Linked DNA regions of Homo sapiens. The protein of the gene in region 2 interacts with the protein of the main gene of each other region in a pairwise test. Each region holds a gene or a part of one and is shown on either strand. Other genes may lie near its edges. The genes, in order: RAB35 and GNPAT.

Region 1 (3,808 bases), on a different chromosome or scaffold from region 2:
TGACGCCCTGGCAAAGTCTGTGCCCCTCCCCTGGGGCAGGTAGGCACCTCCCTTCCTGCTACTCTTGGCTCATCTGTGCAGGTGGCAGGAAAAGCATGGAAGCCACACAAGCATCCAGGGATGGCTGGGGAGAGGGCGCCCAGCAAAGCCATCACCCCAAACATGCAGAGCCCAGGGCCAGCCAGGAAGGCCAGAAGGAAGGGGAGGCCCAACTCTCCTCTCCAGACCCCATGTCCCCATTCATCCCAGTGGCACAGGACGACATCAATCCCCGGAGGAGGAGGGGGACCACAGCCTCCGCTTCCCCGAGAGCTGTCGAAGAGCCGGAGGCCAGGCGGCAGCCCCGCCCCACACTGTGCAATCAGCCAGAGCTGTCCCTCTGTCCCCTCTCCCCAAAGCCGCAGGGACCTCCACCCCAGGGCTCCTCAGGACAGCACACAGACAAACCATGAGTGGACAGGCCGCTTCCTCCCGGCTTTCTGGCTGCCACCTGCCCCAGCCCTAATTACCTCCACCCCCATGAGGTTCATGGGGACAGCCCAAGCCCCAGTTCAGGAACAGCCCAAGTCAGCGCAGGCTGAGCAAGAATGGGGCAGCCAGGCTGACTTGTGGCTGCAGCTCCATTCCTGTCCACCTGCCCATCAGCTCTCTGGCCAATGCTTCACATCTGAGGCCCGATCTAAGGACAAAGACCAACCCTGGCTCCATCTCTGAAAGGCTGGCCCTTGGGAAGGTGCCTGCATTCACCCTGCCACACCTTGCAGCTTCAACAGTTATAGCACACAGGTGGCTAGTCCTTAACTGGGGTGGTCATGAGGAAGAAAGGAGCTAAGCATTACCCCAAGGCGGGGGAGCAGTAAACAGTCAGTATGCGTTCTTCAGCATCATCAATGTGCCTTCAAGGACAATCTGTGGTCCCAGACAGAGGTGGTGGAAGGAAACCAACAGGCAGCTTAGGGGCAGCCCTGAGCATCTTCCCTGATGCTGCAGAGCCAGAGCTCCTGCCCAGCCCTGGGACAAAGCCCAACCTGCCCCTGCCACCGCCCCTGCCCCATCCTTGCTCCATCCTCAACACGACCGCTGGGATCTCTTCCCAGGGCTTCATTCTGCCCACAGCTTTGCTTCCAGGGCAGCGTCGCTCCTTGGCTTCGGGGTAGCTGTGACGATCAAGCTCTCTTGGCACTGGGCCCAAGAACTAGCTCTGGCCTTGGCAGCTGCTGCTGAGAGCGCCGGGTCAGCACATGGCATGGTGTGTCAGACGCCTTCCAGAGCGAGGGCGCGCCGGAGCCACAGGAACAGGCGACTGTCCCCTGCCAGCAGAGGAAGCCCAAGGAGCGGATGGCTCTGCAGACTCTCCTTTGCTGAAGATGATCAGAGATGCCAAGAAACGCCTGCAGCCATGGCCCCGGCGCACAGCCCCCGCGGCTCCCTGGGCGCCTCTGCCTCATCCGGGGCCCAGGAAAGGGGCTTTATCTGAGAGCAGAGAATTTGTCTGGGGATGAAGTCAGGGGCTCAGAGCTCTGGCTAGGAGGAACCGGAGCACCGACGTTTCCCATGGCCACCAGGAATCACCTTCACTCACAGGGACTCTGCTCTAGGCCAGGCACAGAGCTGGGGGCTTGGTATCCATTACCTTATTAATGTCTGCAGCCACCTGATCCAGCAGACCTCAGGATGGCCATGTGACCAGCAAGGACGTGAGGCTGAGTGCAGCGGCCAGCTGGAAGTCCTGGCGCCCAGGGCTGACTCCCAGGCCCAACGCCAGGGCCTTGCCTTCCTTGTCACTTCTCCCCTCACCTCCATCCCACCCGCACCTCTCAGGGCCGGCAAACCTCAGCTTCTGAGAGCAAGAACCCGAGAAGGGGTGACCACAAGGCTTTTTCTCGCCAGGCTAACAGGATGCAGTTTCAGTTTCTCTCTGAACGCCCTGCATCGGAAAAAAGTCACGCTACTGCATCCTGACTGCCCTATTCCTGAAAACTCCTCACCTCCCCAAAACTCCTTCCTTCTTTGCCAGTGACCATCAAAGGGCGTCGAGACTTCCAGTGGCCCCTCAGGGCGCCCTGCTGGGCCTCCTGCCTCATGAGGGCCAGAGCGGGACTCTAAGATGGAGCCACCTGTCTGCTTCCCCAGACACGTGGGACGGCAGCAGGGGCCCAGCCGCTGCCCACAGGCCGCCCCTTCCCAAGCCCCTGGGGAAAAACCCATGTTGCTCCCAGGAAGCTGAGTGACTCCTCCCCGCCTCCCCACGGAATGGAGGAACCAGTTCACCTTCTTCCCGCTCTGCCCAGCCCAGAAAGCAGCTGACTGCATGATGGCAGGGAGGGGCTGTGGCTCCTCCTGCTGAAAGAGCCTCGGACCCCCCAGGCCCCACTGCCCTGCCCAGGAGTTCATTCCTCATGGCCACGGGCCTCTGAACCTCTGCCACCCTGAACCTCCGCCTGGTTTTAAGGCACAGGACGGGGCAGGAAGGCAGGGGCGCCACCTGCCCAGTCGATGCAGGGCCTCGGCAGACTCAGGGCCAACCCTGAGTGCCCCCAACCTCTGCCCCACTGAGTTAGGAGGCTTCATCCTCCCTGGGCCTGTTTTCCTGTCCATAAAATGGAGATAGTCACAGGTCTCTCTACCGGGATTAACCAAAATAAAGCAGCTGAAATCCTAGCGACAGGACCAACCCAGAGCAAGGATTCATGAGGTCAGCGCCCAGACCAGCCAACGGCATGAGGGCTTGCCTCGCCTGGGCCTGCAGCCCCAGGCTGCCCAAAGCACTGATGCCAGCCCTGCCCCAGTGTCCTCCGCAGATTCTCACTGGCAGCTGCCAAGACATGCAGGCCACAGAGCCCTCGCTCACAGGGCTCATCAACGGTCACCACACAGCACCACACCAGGGCGACCCCGGGACTGGGAGCTCCCAGGGATTCCGGGCATCACGGGCCACAGCACAAATGTGCTCAGCATAGGGTGAACCCAGTGACAAGCCCTCCGCCTTGGCTCCAGCCCCAGGAGCTGCTCGCCCAGCACACCTGTCCCTCTCCAGCAGCCCTGCTCTCCCCCATACTCCCAGCCATCCATGGGGGCGCTGCACCCCACACTTCCCACCCTCGGGAGATGCCGAGGGGCCCGGGGGCAGGGGCAGCCAGCCTGGGGAGTGCCGGGCTTTCATGCTGTGGGAAGGAAGGGGGCCGCTGGCTGGGACTTCCTCATTCGCCTTCCTGAGGTCACTTCCAGAGGAGCTGCTCGAGAGAGCCAAGGAGGTGCCCGTGGAGCCAGACAGCCGCCCCTCACTCTGCACAGGCCACTGTGTGGAGCACAGGCTTGGCCGCTGGGAGGGACCCCTCCAGGGCGCCCTCTGTCAAATGGGATGACAGCAGCACCAAGCACACAGAGCTGCCAGACACCACACCCCGGCACGCACGTTGACGCCTGCAGCAGAGCACCTGGCACCCTCCACATGGAAGCCAATCCCAGAGGCAGGCCCTCCAGGAAACGAGCGCAGAGAGCTTCGGCAACTTGCCTAAGGACACACAGCCCAACAGCTCCAAATCGGCCCCTTCAGACCCTGCTCTTTCCTAAAACCTGCTCCACTAACAACCCAATAACCAGGAGCCGCTCCGAAGGACACTGCCCATCTGCGCAGGAGCCCAGCTTCCCCCCGGCCTGCAGCTCAGCCACAAAGGTGGGCAACCGGTGGGCGGCCGGATTTCCCAGGAACAGCTTTAAGGGTAGGGAAGGGCCTGCTGACATGCACCGTGTTCGTCTCTAGACAGCGTCACTTCCAAGGCATCAGTGCAGGTGACGGGAGCCTGCA
Region 2 (3,808 bases):
ATGAAAAATAAGCATGTTTAAGTTTAGATCTTTATAGAAGATTTCAAGATCTGCAAATAAATATTATCCCCTCTTTTTTAGACTTCCTGGGAATGAAAATGGTTGGTGAGCTGCTACGAATGTCGGGTGCCTTTTTCATGCGGCGTACCTTTGGTGGCAATAAACTCTACTGGGCTGTATTCTCTGAATATGTAAAAACTATGTTACGGGTAAATGCAAATAATTCCCAACTACTCTTAAGCCATATTTTCTTCACTGATGTTTGCTCATTTAAACTCTTAACTTCTGAATAGAACACTTAGCTATTTTGCTTTCCCTCAAGAACTGCTTATAACCTCAGCAATTGGTTTAATCTGTGTGACTCTCTTGTTTAATTTTCACTGTAAGCTGTGTTTGTTCAGGAAGCTTGGGAGGGAGCTTGGGAAAAGGAATCAAAAGAAGCATTTATCATTTTGAGAGTAGGCAATGGGTTTTGTGTTTTGTTTGTTTTCTCTTTAAAGAATGGTTATGCTCCTGTTGAATTTTTCCTCGAAGGGACAAGAAGCCGCTCTGCCAAGACATTGACTCCTAAATTTGGTAGGTCACTACAGATTAAAAGGAAAAATACAAACCCAAAGACATCAGCTGCTACATAAAACTTGACGCTTTATTTAACAAGATATTCTTTTCAAGTGTAAATGTATAACTGTTGATATTTACGGGATTAGTGTATAATGTATGCTTTTAGTATTTTCCGTTTATGTGCTCATGTTTGCTCTGCTCTTCAATATGTTGATGAAGCATTTCTCCCTGTGTTTTGCAGGTCTTCTGAATATTGTGATGGAGCCATTTTTTAAAAGAGAAGTTTTTGATACCTACCTTGTCCCAATTAGTATCAGTTATGATAAGATCTTGGAAGAAACTCTTTATGTGTATGAGCTTCTAGGGGTTCCTAAACCAAAAGAGTCTACAACTGTACGTGAGCTTGATTTTAGCTTAATTGAGAGAATGTGCTGACTGACACATCAACTAATTTCTAAATTTACTGCTTTTCGTTTTCTTCCCCCCCTGTTATGGTACTATTAGGGGTTGCTGAAAGCCAGAAAGATTCTCTCTGAAAATTTTGGAAGCATCCATGTGTACTTTGGAGATCCTGTGTCACTTCGATCTTTGGCAGCTGGGAGGATGAGTCGGAGCTCATATAACTTGGTTCCAAGGTGTGACCTGTGTTTTAATAACTGTCTTAGAAATGAGGATTAAAATCCAAAGGTGTGAGTTGCAATGCTGGAGTTGACCACTTCTCTTGATTTACTTAAGATTACAGAGAAAATGATCAGAAATGCTGTTATCATTCCGTTTTCATCAGTGGAAACCTTCAATTAAAGAAGAATTATGTGTTTGTCCCAAAAAAAGATAAGCTGTGAGATATGTATGTCAAATATGCAAAATCAGACAATGATCATGTTTCTCAAGGGAACTAAAGTGGGAATAAATAATGCCATTATTAACAAGTATATGTGCAGGAATTGTTGAGCACTATTGGTAAGCTAGCCAAAGTATGTACTATTATTTTTGACCCTAGAAAGGATTGCATAATGGTAATGAATGGGAGTGAGTCCTTAGTCTCTAGAGAGTTATAGTTTTATAGGCAAGAAAATATATTAGGTTCTTTCAGGATAAAGAACACAGATACACATTTGAGTTTTCTTAATTAGGAGAAATATACCTGGACAAGTAAGGGAGACAAACCATCTGCCCCTCCAGGCCTCATGTGCTGCAACATCATTTGTAACTTATCTGTAGCTTTAGCAGTTTCCCAGCAGCTACATTAGTCATCACAGACGCTTATGTTAGTTTTTTTCCTGACACAGGCTCTCTCTTTAGATCTCAAATTGGTTTGGCTGGCTATTACCTAGTACAGGGCACCCTTACTGGCTGCATCTTTCACATTAAGCCACCTGTGTGGCAATTTTTAGGTCATGTGTGTATCTCTGCTCCAGCCAGCTCTGTGCAGGCCTTATTGTACTATTCAAAGTTTGGTAATCCATGCATGAAGTCAGACAAACTGAATGGCACCCATTCAGTATAAAATAGTTATTATATAATCTGTTAAGTGTGTTCTACAATGGAGATATGTTCAGCGTGCTATGCATTCTGAAAAGATAGTAATTTAGTCTACTGGGGCAGGCATCCATTCTCAGAGAAACGATGTATCCTATTTAGGAAGCAACAAAAGTTTTTTGCCTGGAACCAGGAATAATAGGACCCTGGACCCCTTCAGTATTTTTACCATCTCTCAAGAGGATATTCCAGAAATGTATGGTCAGATTACACTATAGTAAAGCAAAGGAATACTGTTTGCACCTGACCTGAGAGAATTCAGTTGGCACAAAGTATGAGAAGCCTTCTAAAACGTCTAGAGTCTTTTTCCATCCCCATTTGTCTAAGTAACAGAACTGTAATTTGTTGCTCTGTGCTCTTCCTTTTAGATACATTCCTCAGAAACAGTCTGAGGACATGCATGCCTTTGTCACTGAAGTTGCCTACAAAATGGAGCTTCTGCAAATTGAAAACATGGTTTTGAGCCCCTGGACCCTAATAGTTGCTGTTCTGCTTCAGAACCGGCCATCCATGGACTTTGATGCTCTGGTGGAAAAGACTTTATGGCTAAAAGGCTTAACCCAGGCATTTGGAGGGTTTCTCATTTGGCCTGGTATGTAGGTAGGACATATGTGTTGAGAATGCTTGCTTAATTTGGAAGAGTTAAAACCTGGACCTGAAAAATCTATAGAGGACTTGAGCAAAGGATTGCTCAGAAAGAGAAAGGACAGGCCGGGCGCGGTGGTTCACACCTGTAATCCCAGCACTTTGGGAGGCCAAGGCAGGTGGATCACGAGGTCAGGAGATTGAGACCATCCTGGCTAACGCGGTGAAACCCCGTCTCTACTAAAAAATAGAAAAAATTAACCAGGCGTGGTGGTAGGCGCCTGTAGTCCCAGCTACTCGGGAGGCTGAGGCAGGAGAATGGCATGAACCCAGGAGGCGGAGCTTGCAGTGAGCCGAGATTGTGCCACTGCACTCCAGCTAGGCAACAGAGCGAGACTCTGTCTCAAAAAAGAAAGAAAAAGAGAAAGGACACCAAATCTGTTTTTATCACTATAGGACACAGTGAACACAGCACGTTGATTATTTGAGAATAATTGTTTACATGTCATTTCCCACTACGAGACTCTGAATATCTTGAGGACTAGAATACCATTTCCTTGGCACCTAGTACGGTGGAAAATAAAGTCATGAATCCTAGCCAGGCATGGTGGTACACACCTATAATCCCAGCTACTTGGGAGGCTGAGGTGGGAGGATCACTTGAGCCCAGGAGTTCGAGACCAGCCTCAGTAACATAGTGAGACCCCATCTCCAAAAAAAAAAAAAAAAGGCCGGGCGTGGTGGCTCACACCTGTAATCCCAGCACTTTGGGAGGCTGAGGCGGGCGGATCACGAGGTCAGCAGTTCCAGACCAGCCTGACCAACATGGTGAAACTCCGTCTCTACTAAAAACACAAAAATTAGCCGGGCATGGTGGCGTGCACCTGTAATCCCAGCTACTCGGGAGGCTGAGGCAGGAAAATTGCTTGAACCTGGGAGGCAGAGATTGCAGTGAGCCAAGATTGCGCCACTGCACTCCAGCCTGGGTGATAGAGCGAGATTCCGTCTCAAAAAAAAAAAAAAATTGTACAGGCTACAGTTGGAAATGCGTTTTTTTTTAAAGACCAGATAATTATTTGAAGTCAAGTACCTACTGTTCTTTGATCAACCCAATACTGAATAC

What was found.
Region 1: the proteins of GNPAT (region 2) and RAB35 interact in a two-hybrid assay, tested with the Homo sapiens proteins (one large-scale study listed by IntAct).

What each region holds. Positions count from the first base shown.
Region 1 is NC_000012.12:120,099,600-120,103,407, forward strand, and holds part of RAB35 (ras-related protein Rab-35), read right to left. Parts: intron 1-3,808. UniProt on the Homo sapiens protein: The small GTPases Rab are key regulators of intracellular membrane trafficking, from the formation of transport vesicles to their fusion with membranes.
Region 2 is NC_000001.11:231,265,212-231,269,019, forward strand, and holds part of GNPAT (dihydroxyacetone phosphate acyltransferase), read left to right. Parts: intron 1-81; coding exon 82-209; intron 210-500; coding exon 501-576; intron 577-802; coding exon 803-954; intron 955-1,065; coding exon 1,066-1,196; intron 1,197-2,468; coding exon 2,469-2,692; intron 2,693-3,808. UniProt on the Homo sapiens protein: Dihydroxyacetonephosphate acyltransferase catalyzing the first step in the biosynthesis of plasmalogens, a subset of phospholipids that differ from other glycerolipids by having an alkyl chain attached through a vinyl ether linkage at the sn-1 position of the glycerol backbone, and which unique physical properties have an impact on various aspects of cell signaling and membrane biology.